2 linked regions of the Homo sapiens genome follow. The protein of the gene in region 2 interacts with the protein of the main gene of each other region in a biochemical or structural test. Each region holds a gene or a part of one and is shown on either strand. Other genes may lie near its edges.

Region 1 (6,528 bases), on a different chromosome or scaffold from region 2:
GGCCTCCTAAAGTGTTGGGATTACAGGTGTGAGCCACTACGCCAGCCCCTTTTCTTCTTTTTTTACTGCTGTGATTTACTTTTTCCACATTCAACATCCCCTAGTCTTTTCTGGTGACTTCCAAGTGACATAGGAACCCCCTAAGGGGCACAGTCTATGTGCTCAACAACAGTATGCTGGTCAAAAAAGGTTAAATGCTGTTGCAATTTTAAACTTTCCACCGTTCGTCAATCAGAATTAAGTGACATATAATGTTTGCTTCCCGCAACACCCTTCTTTTTATGGTGAAGATAACTTAAGCATATTCATTAAAAAGGCTAAAGTCACACGTTCACACATTAAAAGTCACTTTGAGACATTCAATGATCTGATGGTGGACTTACGTTTTCTCCTTTAAAAGGAAGGGGTTGTCTGCTGTTGTGATTTTAACTGATACATCTCACTCTAGTCAAGGTGTTTAGCAGGAACTGTTAACAATGAAACTGAGAAAAACACAAACATGAACAAATGACCTTTTATTTCATACAGAGATACAAAGGCAACTATGTGCAGCAACAATCTGACGGGCAGTCCAAACTCTTGGGAGGAAGTAAATTCATGGTAAATGTCATGATGGCTGGTCGAGGAGAAGGTCAAAGGAGGAGAGAGAGGAGACAGAGAATGCTACAGCTAATAAATAACAGTAATGAGAACTGTGTGGTTTCAACGCCATGAGTTTGTTGGGGCATCCTCTGTGCTACTAAAGCCACAATTCTATATCATCATCATCAACATTCTTGAAGCGCATTTTACACTATTCTGCATTAGCAATTGTGTTGAGGGAACTATAAACCTTAAAATTACTGACACATTTTATTAAAGGAGCTGTAAACTCTGCTCATTATTGCCTGTCTTGGATGTGGCCTTTGGGATTCATAGCCTCTTTTAAGGAAACAGGGTTGACACACTTTGGTTGGTCCCAGTTTTTGAGGCAATGCTAGTTGTAATAGCATCATCTTTTAATCTGAGGAAAATGTTTCTTTAAAAAACCTGTCTTCCAAAATACAACAAAAAACAAGGTCTGGGTAGTGGCGAATCCTTCCATGGCACTCCATGCCTCCCTGTGGGCTGTAACCATGCACCTGAGTAAAGAGTCTCATAAAAATACTTCTCCAATGCATTTATAATAGGGACACACTACATAGTTTGTTATTCATTAAAGCAGTTTATTGGCTTAATGTACATCAGTGAATTTTTAAATGCTAAAAATTTATGATAAAAGAATACTGAATCAAAACATCAAAGAAAGAAAATAGAGGCTCAGCAGCATGATTTCAATATATTTTCCTGGAAAAAGTTTTTTTTTTTTTTAAAGTGTATGACTTTTTATCCAAGAACAAAAGCTTTCTAAATGCAATGTTTAGACTTGATTTTTTTTTTAAACTAAGCCCAGAAAACTGGGGCTCATAAAATAAAGGCACAATGTGGGCAGCAAGAGAAAAAAGGAGAAAAAATGGGGAAAAAATTGGTTTTAATCTCACGTGTAACATAGGTTGGCTGGTTTTGTTTTTGTTTTAGACAATTAAAGGCAGAATTATCTCCCTGAACACTGCAGATAAATCCTAGTGTTTTAGCTATAAGTTTCAAGAGTTCAGATATACAGATAAAGCAATTTAAAAAAAGCTTTTCTTATTCTAAGGCTTTTGATGCATTATATAAATCTTTAAAATTCCTATCACCCACATTTTAAGACATACATCTATACTTTAATAAGGCACTCTTAAGATATAAAACAGTTTTAAAAACAATGACATTCTACATTAGGGCTAACCCATTCCTCTGCCATAGGGATGGAGTGAATTGTCTCTCTGAATCAAGTCAATCTCTGTGCACCAACAAAAACAGGCAGGTGCCTTGACCCATTCTGAATTTATCTGAGTAGCTGAATTTTAGCAATGGGACTCTCCCATCCACTAGTCGGGGAGTTACACAAACAGAATTGCCCAAGTTTGATAATGAAATTTAAAAACATTATCTCCTTTTTTCTAGAAATGCTTCCTTTGAACATGACTGTCACTTCCATTAGCTCCTGTCCATAAAGAAAAACACAATGGAAGATAACCAATGATTCCCCATATCCTTCAGTTTTCCTGATGGGACAGAAATATAAAGGAACTTTATTTTTAAATGACAACCTAATAACTGTTAATAACATGACATTTTAGTTGTGTGTCTTGTATGTATTTATGTCATTGGTGCTAATAGCTTCCACTTCTAAATGACACACATTTGAATCCTACCATCCCTATTGCTAATTAAACAAACACCAAAGCTTACAATATAGTACTGCAACCTCTAAGACTGTAACAACACAGAGAAATTTTAGTGGAGTTTCCACTCTTTCCTAAGTAATGGAAGAAAATGAAGAAACCAGAAAGGTCAGACTAAGCCTGAAACACAATTTCACTATGAAAAAAGGGTAACAAATGTCCCATCAGAGCGAGAGGAGTTAAAAATGTGGCATCGGGAGTGTATCAGATTGAGGTGCTGTTGTTGGCTAGGTCTTTGCTTCCAATGAGGAAAGAAGGACCTAGAAAGGAGCTGTGAGGTGCTTCTTTCCTTCATCCTTCTGGGCTGGCAGCAAACGATCAATTACTTCCCGTAGAACTTTTTGTTGAGAAGGAAGATCAGGAGGTTGACATTTACTTTAGCTCTATCAAATAATTTCATGACTGCAACTCCTTCATACTGTAGCTGCAGCAGGTCCTATTAACAAAACAAAACAAAACAAAACAAAACATTTTGACAGTTAATCAAGTCTGTGGAACAAGGAAAAAGGACACAATGTAGGGAGGGATCCAGATGGACTGAGGCCTGCCTTGTGTGCCAGATGTGAACTGGGGCGAAAGAAAAGTTCCACGCTAGGCAACTACCCACTGCACAACCAGCCTGAGAGCTGGAGCAATAGGGCACATTGGCCAAGGGAGGCTTCTGGTTGATTTGGAGTTAGGAAGTCATGTTGTTCATATCAAAATTCATCATACATGGAAAGAAAAAGAAACATGTTCAATTGCCACACACATCTAAGCTTTTTATTTCAGAAGTCACAATGACATTTTCCCATTTCATCCATGTTATGGGTCACTAGTTTTAATAAATCTGGAAAAGGTGAAGCATTTAAACCTATGATGAAATATACTAAGCACGGGGAAATGAGATAAGGCTAGTAATGTCACCTTAATACTATCTGATAGATTCTTAATTTCTATTCCATATGAGAACACTTTCTATCCCGAAGGCAAGGGGAAAAGAGAGAACTTGATGTTTTATTAGGTGTCTGCCATGTGCTTGGCATTGTGTAAGCACATTACATAGTATCTTTTAAAGTCCTCACAAAAATTTTTATGAGGTGCGATTATTCTAACTTTAAAGATGAGCTACTGAGACTCAGAGATGTTAAATGACTTGCACAACAGGACAGAGATGGAGGCGATAAATCCAGATCTGACTGCAATGCTCCCGCTTTTCCTGCTACTTTCACCATTGTCCTGAACAAGTTTAAGAAATCTGAGTGGTCTCACTTCTGAACTTTATAAGAGTGGTGATGAGAAAGCAAGGGTCAAAAGTCTTGAAAGGACCCCACAAGGCCGGGTGTGGTGGCTCACGCCTGTCATCCCAGCACTTTGGGAGGCCGAGGCAGGCGGATCACGAAGTCACGAGTTAGAGACCAGCCTGGCCAACATGGCGAAACCCTGTTTCTACTAAAAATACAAAAATTAGCTGGGCGTTGGGGCGTGGTGGTGCACGCCTATATTCTCAGCTACTCAGGAGGCTGAGGCAGGAGAATCACTTGAACCCAGGAGGCGGAGGTTGCAGTGAGCCGAGATTGTGCCATTGCACTGCAGCTTGGGCAATAAGAGCGAAACTGTCTCAAAAAAAAAAAAAATTAGCCGGGCGTGATGGTGTGCGCCTGTAATCCCAGCCACTCAGGAGGCTGAGGCAGGAGAATCACTTGAACCCACGAGGTGGAGGTTGCAGTGAATGGAGAACACGCCACTACACTCCAGTCTGGGAGACAGGGCGAGACTCTGCCCCCCCCTCCAAAAAAAGAAAGGACCCCACAAGTTCAATTATCTGTTGGAAAAATCCTAGCAGCTCCATGAGGGCTGCTGGGACCTGTGCCTAACAGAATACCCCACACCTGGCAGTTACCCCACATTTAATGAATTTGTACATAAATTAATAAATTACCACAGGCAGACTGGTTGGCCTAACATGATTTGGTTAAAAAATTTAAAAATAAAAATATGTTCTGATAACTCCACGTAAATAAAAAATTTTAAATTAAAAAAATAATTTGGTGAAACTGAGGGAATAAGAGGTTCCTATTCTTTTTTTTTTTTTGGTGGAAGTACTTTAGTTAGCTGTGTGCATCACAAAATCATTTCACATTTGTTTAGCTAACATGTTTTAATGGTCTACTGGTCATTGAGAAGGAAACGAAGATGACTAAGAAATGCTACCTGTCCTTAAGGAGTTTATGGCTTTAGCGGGGAGAGGGGAAGTAAGTCAACACCTACTGTAAACAGAGGATGTCTGCAAGGGCTACAGAAGCGAAGGGGAAACCACCTATTATGGCTTGGCTGGGGGAGGCACACCCATGGAAGTACTCCATGGAGGAACAAAAGGGGCGGGGTTGGGAGGCAGGGGAGGGGAGGGAGGGCAGCATGAGCAGAAGCCCAAATGTACATTGACAGGAAGGCACCTGCCCGGGCTGGCAGGGCATGGCTGTGTGAAGCAGTGCAAGAAAGGAGAGAGAAGCAGACTAACCGGTGCCACACACACAAAGCTAAAGGAGTCTGGATGTCACCTAGGAATCCTCTCGATGCCCTGTTATTTTTTAACGTGTAAAAATCAGATATTTCAAAATAAAACTTAGGGATCTTTATGCTACAAAAATGAATTACTCCCGAGTTCTTTTTGGATTTAAGATAGAATTCAGTTTACAAACATAAACTTTACACACACCTTGTCAGAATGTATCTAACTTTTAAGTACCTATATCAAATCAAAATGACAAAAAGATTTCAAGCTACTGAGTGGGCTTAGAATTCTGCAGTGTCAGCATGTGTACTTCTGCATTTTGTTCAAGTCCAAGGTGTCAGCTCGATTTAGTGGCAGCACTAAGTGGAAGCTTCAGCTAAATGTTTTCTGAAGAGTGACATCTGCAAAAGCTCTCCAGAGCGCACACACCAAACCAGACATGCTGAAACCCTCAGCTTCTTTCCCCGCAGTGTGGAGCCTAGCTCACTGCTGAATGTAGACAGCTTTCCTCAGATGAGTCTCCTCTTTATCTATTTCTCCTACTTGGACAAGAATCTCATCCAGAAAGTTTTTGGTTCCTGCTGGTGCATACCCACCTGATAATGTAACATAAAAGTCTCCATTTGAACTCCCATGAATTTGGCTTTCACTTCGAAGTCTCCAACTTCTTCTGTTGGACTGATTTCAAATATAACATTTTTAAACCTGTTGAAAGATAACATCGTAAGGGTATGGTTTTTATATTCTCATATAAAAATATTCTGTGAAATGGGGAAAGGAGATGAACCAAGTCTTCAAGAGTGAAAAGGGCTGCAGAAAATACAGGTCAAAAGTACTTCTGCAGCTGAAGCAGCACAGATTGCCAAGCCCAAGTACCATCTGCTCTGGGACTTGGAGAGAGGAATGGCAACCTCTCTCTGCCTGCAGCACTTACATCCTATCAAAGAGGAACCACTGAGGAGTTCCACAAGTGGCGTGTGAAGGGATGACATCATAGGAATTCTCTTCACTTCCACATGGCCAAAAAGGAAACCTAATGATAAAAGGAGAAAACGGAGGACACTGGGGAAGGAGAGGGTGTATGTGTTTGAATACATGCATGTTTGAGGACTGGGAGAAGTAAATAAACAAAAGGGGGTCCGTATAAAAAGCACCAAGGGAGGAGGTTTTCTAGAAAGAGTAGGTGCTGTGTATATAAGCACACTCAGTATTACCAAAGATAAATTGTTATTATTGAACGTATTTAAGTTATCACTCATTCACAATATGTTACGTGCCAGGAAATTTTGGGGGGCCAAAAGGAAAAGGTATTATGCAGCCGGGCACAGTGGCTCACATCTGTAATCCCAGCACTTTGGGAGACCGAGGCGGGCGGATCACGAGGTCAGATCGAGGCCATCCTGGCCAACATGGTGAAACCCTATCTCTATTAAAAATACAAAAATTAGCTGGGCATAGTGGCATGCACCTGCAGTCCCAGCTACTCAGAAGGCTGAGGCAGGAGAATTGATTGAACCCGGGAGGCAGAGGTTGTAGTGAGCTGAGTACCATACCCTATCACCACTGCAGTCCAGTCTGGTGATAGGGCGAGACTCCGTCTCAAAAAAAAAAAAAAAAAAAAAAAAAAAAAGGGATTATGCTGTTCTCTGGATGATCAAAGTATAGCACCCCAGATTTCCAGAACTCAACTATGGAGCTGCCTTACCTATTACGAACAGGGCTGAG
Region 2 (7,030 bases):
AGGATCGCTTGAAACCCAGGAGGTGGAGGTTGTAGTGAGCTGAGATTGTGCCATTGCACTCCAGCCCGTGCGACAGAGTGAGACCTTGTCTCAAAAAAGCAAAAACAAAAACTATTAGAGATACGTCTTTGGCCGGGCACGGTAGCTCAAGCCTGTAATCCCAGCACTTTGGGAGGCCGAGGTGGGCGGTTCACCTGAGGTCAGGAGTTTGAGACCAGTCTGGCCAATATGGCGAAACCTCGTCTCTACTAAAAATAGAAAAATTAGCTGGGCACGCCTGTAATCCTAGCTATTCAGGAGGTTGAGGCAGGAGAATCGCTTGAACTTGGGAGGTGGAGGTTGCAGTGAGCCAAGATTGTACCATTGCACTCCAGCTTGGGTGACAGAGGGAAACTGTCTTTTTTTGTTTGTTTGTTTTTAAAGGAGATACATCTTCATCTGTTCCTGCTTTGACCCTTTGCCTGGACCATGGCAGTGTCCTTTCAGGCTGTACGTCCCTCCATCCTGCCCTCCTGTGCCTCTGCTTACACTGGGCTCTTAAGGAAACTCCTGCTCCTTGTCTCATCATCCCTAGGGATGGTTCTGTCTTATCATTTCTAGAATTGGATGCCTTGCCATCTTGTTTGCTCCTTAACTCTGCATACAGGGCTGTGTAAATAATTCCTTCATGAAAATCTCTATTTCAATCTTCTGGGATGAGTTTTTTCCTTCTGGGACCCTGACTGATAGAGACTGATAATACACCCGTATGAAAATATGTCTGCCAGGTGCGGTGGCTCATGCCTGTAATCTCAGCACTTTGGGAGGCCGAGGCAGGCGGATCACCTGAGGTCAGGAGCTCGAGACCAGCCTGGCCAACATGGCAAAACCCTGTCTCTACTAAAAGTACAAAAATTAGCCGGGCGTGGTGGTGGGCGCCTGTAATCCCAGCTACTCAGGATGCTGAGGCAGGAGAATCACTTGAACCCGGAAGGCGGAAGTTGCAGTGAGCTGAGATTGTGTCACTGCACTCCAGCCTGGGCGACAAGAGCAAGGCTCTGTCTTGAAAAAAAAAGAAAAAAAGTCAGAAATAATTTGCAAAGCATGTTAGAAAATTCTAGATTTCCTGAATAGCAATTTAATTGAGATTGGCCAAGAAATATTACATAGGGTTGATACTCTTTTATTCTAAGATAGTCCTTTCTGAGCATGGGGTCTATAATTTTTTTTTCCTCCACCTTACTGCTGCCCCACCTTTTAACTTTCACTTAGTGGACCTTTGCCCCAAGATTTTCTCTCAGCTTTTCCTAGGTAAGACAGCATCACCCGGGCGCGATGGCTCATGCCTGTAATCCCAGAACTTTGGGAGGCCAAGGCAGGCGGATTGCCTGAAGTCAGGAGTTCGAGACCAGTCTGGCCAATATGGTGAAACCCTGTCTCTACTAAAAATACAAAAAAATTAGCCAAGGATGGTGGGGGGCGCCTGTAATCCTAGCTACTCGGGAGGCTGAGGCAGGGGAATTGTTTGAATCAAGGGAGGTGGAAGTTGCAGTGAGCCAATATCGTGCCACTGCACTCCAGCCTGGGTAACAGAGTGAGACTCCGTCTCAAAAAGGAAAAAAAAGACAGCATCTTACATTCAGGTATTTATAAACAACTTTTATTATTTATTTGTTTTTATTTTATATTGGCTCACTGCAGCCTCCACCTCCTGGGTTCAAGTGATTCTCCTGCGTCAGCCTCCCAAGTAGCTGGAACTACACGTGCCTGCTACCATGCCGAGGTAATTTTTTTTTTTTTTTTTTTTTTGAGAAGGAGTTTTCGCCCTTTTTGCAAAGGTTGGAGTGCAGTGGTGCGATCTCGGCTCACTGCAACCTCCTCCTCCTGGGTTCAAGCGATTCTCCTGCCTCAGCTTGTCGAGTAGGTGGGATTACAGTCACGCTCCACCACACTGACTAATTTCGTATTTTTAATAGAGACGAGGTTTCTCCTTGTTAGCCAGGTTGGTCTCAAACGCCTGACCTCAGGTTATCCACCTGCCTTAGCCTCTCAAAAAGTACTGGGATTACAGGCATGAGCCACTACGCCTGGCAATTTTTTGTATTTTTAATAGAGACAGGGTTTCACCATGTTGACCAGGTTGGTTTCGAACTCCTGACCTTAGGCGATCTGCCCGCCTTGGCCTCCCAAAGTGCTGGGATTATGGGCGTGAGCCATCGTCCCTGGCCTAAACAACAGTTTTATTATTTTATTTTTTATTTTTTTATTGCTTATTACTATTTTTTGAGATGGAGTCTCGCTCTGTCACCCAGGCCGGGGTGCAGTGGCATGATATGGGCTCATGGCAACCTCTGCCTCCTGGGTTCAAGCAGTTCTCCTGCTTTGGCCTCCCAAAGTGATGGAATTACAGGCCCGAGCCACTGCGCCCGGCCACAACTATTTTAATAGTGTTGTTTTGGTGTTGGTTGATTAAAGGAATGGGAACGAATGACTTGAAGCCCTCTCTGTTTCACTCTTTATACAAAGTGGAGTCCAGATTGGGCTAGTGGCCTGTCTAGCCCAATGTCTGACTTGGACATACATTACTGTCCAGGAGTTTCTTAGCTGAATGTGAAAAATGCCTTCCGTGACATCATCCTTACAGGAACATTCTTTACATTTATTCTTTACTTCTGTTGAACGGTGGTGGCGTGAACCATGAATTTGTTTAAGCTTTTCAGCTGTTTTGTGTGTTTTCCTCTCAAGGCATGGGGTTTCATATTTTTGACCTGTGGTAAAGGTATTTGAATTCTGCACTGGCCTCCAAATGTAGGTGTAGTATATGGCTCTGATCTTTGTTGATGATTTTATACATAATGTGGTTTTTTTTCTTGATAAGCCAAAAAAATTATACATAATGTGTGTGTGTGTGTGTGTTTTAATTTCAAATGATAGTTACAGTAAAAGTTTGGAGTTGGGCTAAGTGGGAGGAGCATCAGGAAGCCATTTTTAGAAACCTTAAATTCACCCTTTATAACTTTCTGTCTTTTTGCATTAGTCATCTGATACCTTAGTACTGCCTACTTTTTCACATCTCCATCACTACGTAGCTCTTAAAATTGTAGTCTTCCTTGAAAGGAGATGTTTTTGTCAAGAGTCTTTGCCACCAAGGCAGGATTGCATGTGATCAGTAGGAATATTTTCCTGCAATGTCTTAATATGAAAAATTTCAAACAGACTAGTGGAAAGCATTGTACAGTCAACATGCACATACCCATGGCCTGGATTCTATGACAGTATTTTGCTCTACTTGTTCATTTTGCTGTATTTGCTTTATCATGTCTTCCTGTTATCAGAGGGAACCTTTTAAGAGGATTTATAGAGGAGTTGATTTTGTTTTTTGTTTTGTTTTGTTTTGCTCTTTTTGAGGTGGAGTCTTGCTCTGTTGCCCAGGCTGGAGTGCAATGGCATGATCTCTGCTCACTGCAATCTCCGCATCCCAGGTTCAGGCGATTCTCCTGCCTCAGCCTCCTGAGTAGCTGGGCTTACAGGCACCCACCACCATGCCTGGCTAATTTTTGTATTCTTAGTTGAGACAGGTTTCACCATCTTGGCCAGGCTGGTCTGGAACTCCTGACCTCAGGTGATCCACCTGCCTCGGCCTCCCAAAGTGATGGGATTACAGGCGTCAGCCACCATGCCCGGCCTGATTTTGAAAAAGAATAGGGACTGTGTGCAGTTACATATAAATTCTTATTTTTGAACTCTTGTGTGTTCAGCTGGCTTGTATCAACTACACCAGGGTTAGCCTTGATTCTGGAAGGGTGGATTCAGACTTCAGCTCAGTTGTACATAGTGTCTTCAGCCTAAGTGAGAAACTTTATGCACTATCTTAATTTTTTGAAGCTTCTAGTGGTAATAATTGCTGGCTTTTTTTTTTTTTTTTTGGTAGAAACAGAGTCTTGCTCTGTCGCCAGGCTGGAGTGCAGTGGCACGAAATCAGCTCACTGCAACCTCTGCCTCCCAGGTTCAAGCAATTCTCCTGCCTCAGCCTCCTGAGTAGCTGAGATTACAGGCGTGTGCCACCACACCCAGCTAATTTCTTTTGTATTTTAGTAGAGACGGGGTTTCACTGTGCTGCCCAGGCTGGTCTTGAACTCCTAAGGTCAGACAGTCCGCCCACCTTGCCCTCCTAAAGTGCTAGGATTACAGGCATGAGCCACCGTGCCTGGCTTATGGCTAGCTTTCTTTACATTGATTGTGAAGTCAGATATTGGTAGTAGAACATCATAATTTTAGATTGGGTTTTGTGTTTATTTAGCACTGCACTACTCTAGTGGTGTATTTTTCTGGACAGATTTTATCTGCATAGTTAACGCAGTTATATATAAGGCCTACCGTTACAGAATCCCCATACCTTGTTTGTCAGTGTAAATCGAGGACCTTCATGCGAGGTCTTTAATTTATTCAATAAGTAGGAATATATATTTGACAGTTACTAAATTCTACTGCCTTGTCCTTAAGATCTACATACTTTTTTTTGTTTTTTGAGTCAGAGAGTCTCGCTCTGTTGCTCAGGCTGGAGTGCAGTGATGCGATCTCAGCTCACTGCAACCTCTACCCCGTGGCCTCAAGCGATACTTCTGCCTCAGCCTCCTGAGTAGCTGGGATTACAGGCGCCTGCCACCACACTCAGCTAATTTTTTGTATTTTTAATAGAGATGCAGTTTCGCTGTGTTGGTCAGTCTGGTCTCGAACTCCTGGCCTGAAGTGATCCACCCGCCTTGGCCTCTTGCTGGGATTACAGGGAAGAGCCACTGCGCCTGGCCAAGATCTACTCACTTTTAGACAGCAATATATGCTCTGTATTTTGGTTTGCAATTGTAATTGTCATTGGAAGAGTTTGGCTTTTCTGTCCTGAGATCAACGTGTCTTTAAAAGAAGGCAGTGCAGAAAGTTGTTATTTTTTGAGCTTCTTGGATCTTTTATTTTTTTAACGTGAGGAAATTCCTAGCGTTTCTAGATTTGTTGATTGTGCTTTTAAGTTTTGGTTTATAGATTTCAGGAAGTAACACTAAAGTTTACCCTACTCTCCTCAAAAAGTAAGTAAAAAGTTCTCTTGGCTGGGCGTGGTGGCTCACGCCTGTAACCCCAGCACTTTGGGAGGCCGATGGGGTGGATCTCCTGAGGTCAGGAATTCGAGACCAGTCTGGCCAACATGGCAAAACCCTGTCTCTACTGAAAATACAACAACAAAAAAAAATTAGCTGGATGTGGTGGTGCTTACGTGTAGTCCCAGCTACTTGGGAGGCTGAGGCAGGAGAATTGTTCGAACCCAGCAGGCAGAGGTTGTGGTAAGCCAGGATTGCACCATTGGGCTCCAGCCTGGAAGACAGAGCCAAGACTCCGTCTTAAAGTTCTCTTAATGGAAAAATGAAGAACATAATAGCAACATAAGTTATTTGCTTTCATTGTGGTTATTTCTACAGGACAGGGCAGGGGAAGCACAGATAGGTTAAAAAAAATTGTAGCATCATGAGCTAGGGGGAAATCCAATGTAGAAATGGCATGAACTTTCTTCCAGCCGACTCATGTTCGTTTCCTAGAGTGATGACATTGCTCGATGATTGAAAAGAGGTTGAACTGAGCAGTTAATTATATAAAGTTAGAAATTCCAAAGAAGTAGTAACTACCAGAAATTCTCCAGCAGTATCAGTCAAGACTTGTGGCCAAATACGGCTTCCATTCTTCATGAGGGAAAGGCCATGGAAAGGCTGTCACATTGCCCAGTGCAGATGTTGACTTGGTTTGTGGAAGCGCAGCGTGGACAAGGAATGAATATACACTAATAGGAGTGGAATAACCTTTTTCTTTTACCTATTTGAATAAATTAAGTAAAAGTTTTAATCAGAAGACTTAAAGAGGAGTCGATTTTATCTTTTGATTGCACTAAGCTTAAATATAAGGTTGCACTTTAAGAATTCTGTAGTTTAATAATCATATTCTTATAAGACATAGATTTGTAACAAATAGTGATTGGTAATAAAATTTCAGTCAGTATCAGATTATGCCAGTACCTTGAATTTCTTCCCGGTTGAGCCTTTCTCAGCTAAAGATGTCATTCAGGAAAGGAAGTTTAGAGGATTTTAGACACAGCTGGTTGCCTTTATATTAGTAGTTTTGTTCCTCATATACATAGAGACTTAGGACAGAATAGTAAAAGAAGTGATAATGACATTTTATCATAACAGTCAAAACCTTCATAGCAGCTTATCCTTGACACTGAGTGGCAACTATTGTTAAGGTTTTTACACAACCTTTATCTTTTTTTTTTTTTTTTTTTTTTTTTTTTTTTTTTTGAGACGGAGTTTTGCTCTTGTTGCCCAGGCTGGAGTGCAATGGCGCAATCTCGGCTCACTGCAACTTCCGCCTCCCGGGTTCAAGCGACTCTCCTGCTTCAGCCTCCCGAGTAGCTGGGATTACAGGCATGCACGCCCGGCTAATTTTGTATTTTTAGTAGAGAGGGGTTTCTCCATGTTGGTCAGGCTCTTCTCGAATTCCTGACCTCAGGTGATCCGCCCGCCTTGGCCTCCCAAAGTGCTGGGATTACATGTGTGAGCCACCGAGCCCAGCCAACCTTTATCATTTTTAAAAAGGTCCCTTAGAGCCTTAGGCTCCACTTTCTTCCTCAGCTGCCACATCCAAACCATGGGTAAGCGATGCTTGATCTGCCTCCAAGTTCAAGCAGTCCAGGAAACAGCCCACTTATGTTCACTGTCCAGTCCCCATTCTTGGTCCAGGCCACCATGGATGGCTCCTGGACTGTAGCAACAGCTTCCATGTGTGTCTGCCTTGACTGAGTCCCTGGCGTCCTCAGGCTTCCTGCCACACTGCAGTTGGAGGCTTCTTCTAAAATCCAGTGCTTTCTGGGCAATTTAAAACCTGTGACTTTCCAAGTAGGATCTAGTCCCCATGTCCTTAACAAGAAGAGGTAACGTATTTCCCTATGCCACTGCCCACTTATTTTTTTATTGTTGAGATGGGATCGTGCTTTGTCACCTAGGCTGGGTGG

The links. The genes of interacting proteins can lie anywhere in the genome.
Region 1: the proteins of RAC1 (region 2) and IQGAP1 form a complex in vitro, tested with the Homo sapiens proteins (3 studies listed by BioGRID).

The regions. Positions count from the first base shown.
Region 1 is NC_000015.10:90,496,212-90,502,739, reverse strand, and holds the end of IQGAP1 (ras GTPase-activating-like protein IQGAP1), read right to left. Parts: intron 5,509-6,528; coding exon 5,400-5,508; intron 2,746-5,399; coding exon 2,632-2,745; 3' UTR 501-2,631; downstream 1-500. UniProt on the Homo sapiens protein: Plays a crucial role in regulating the dynamics and assembly of the actin cytoskeleton.
Region 2 is NC_000007.14:6,377,503-6,384,532, forward strand, and holds part of RAC1 (ras-related C3 botulinum toxin substrate 1), read left to right. Parts: intron 1-7,030. UniProt on the Homo sapiens protein: Plasma membrane-associated small GTPase which cycles between active GTP-bound and inactive GDP-bound states.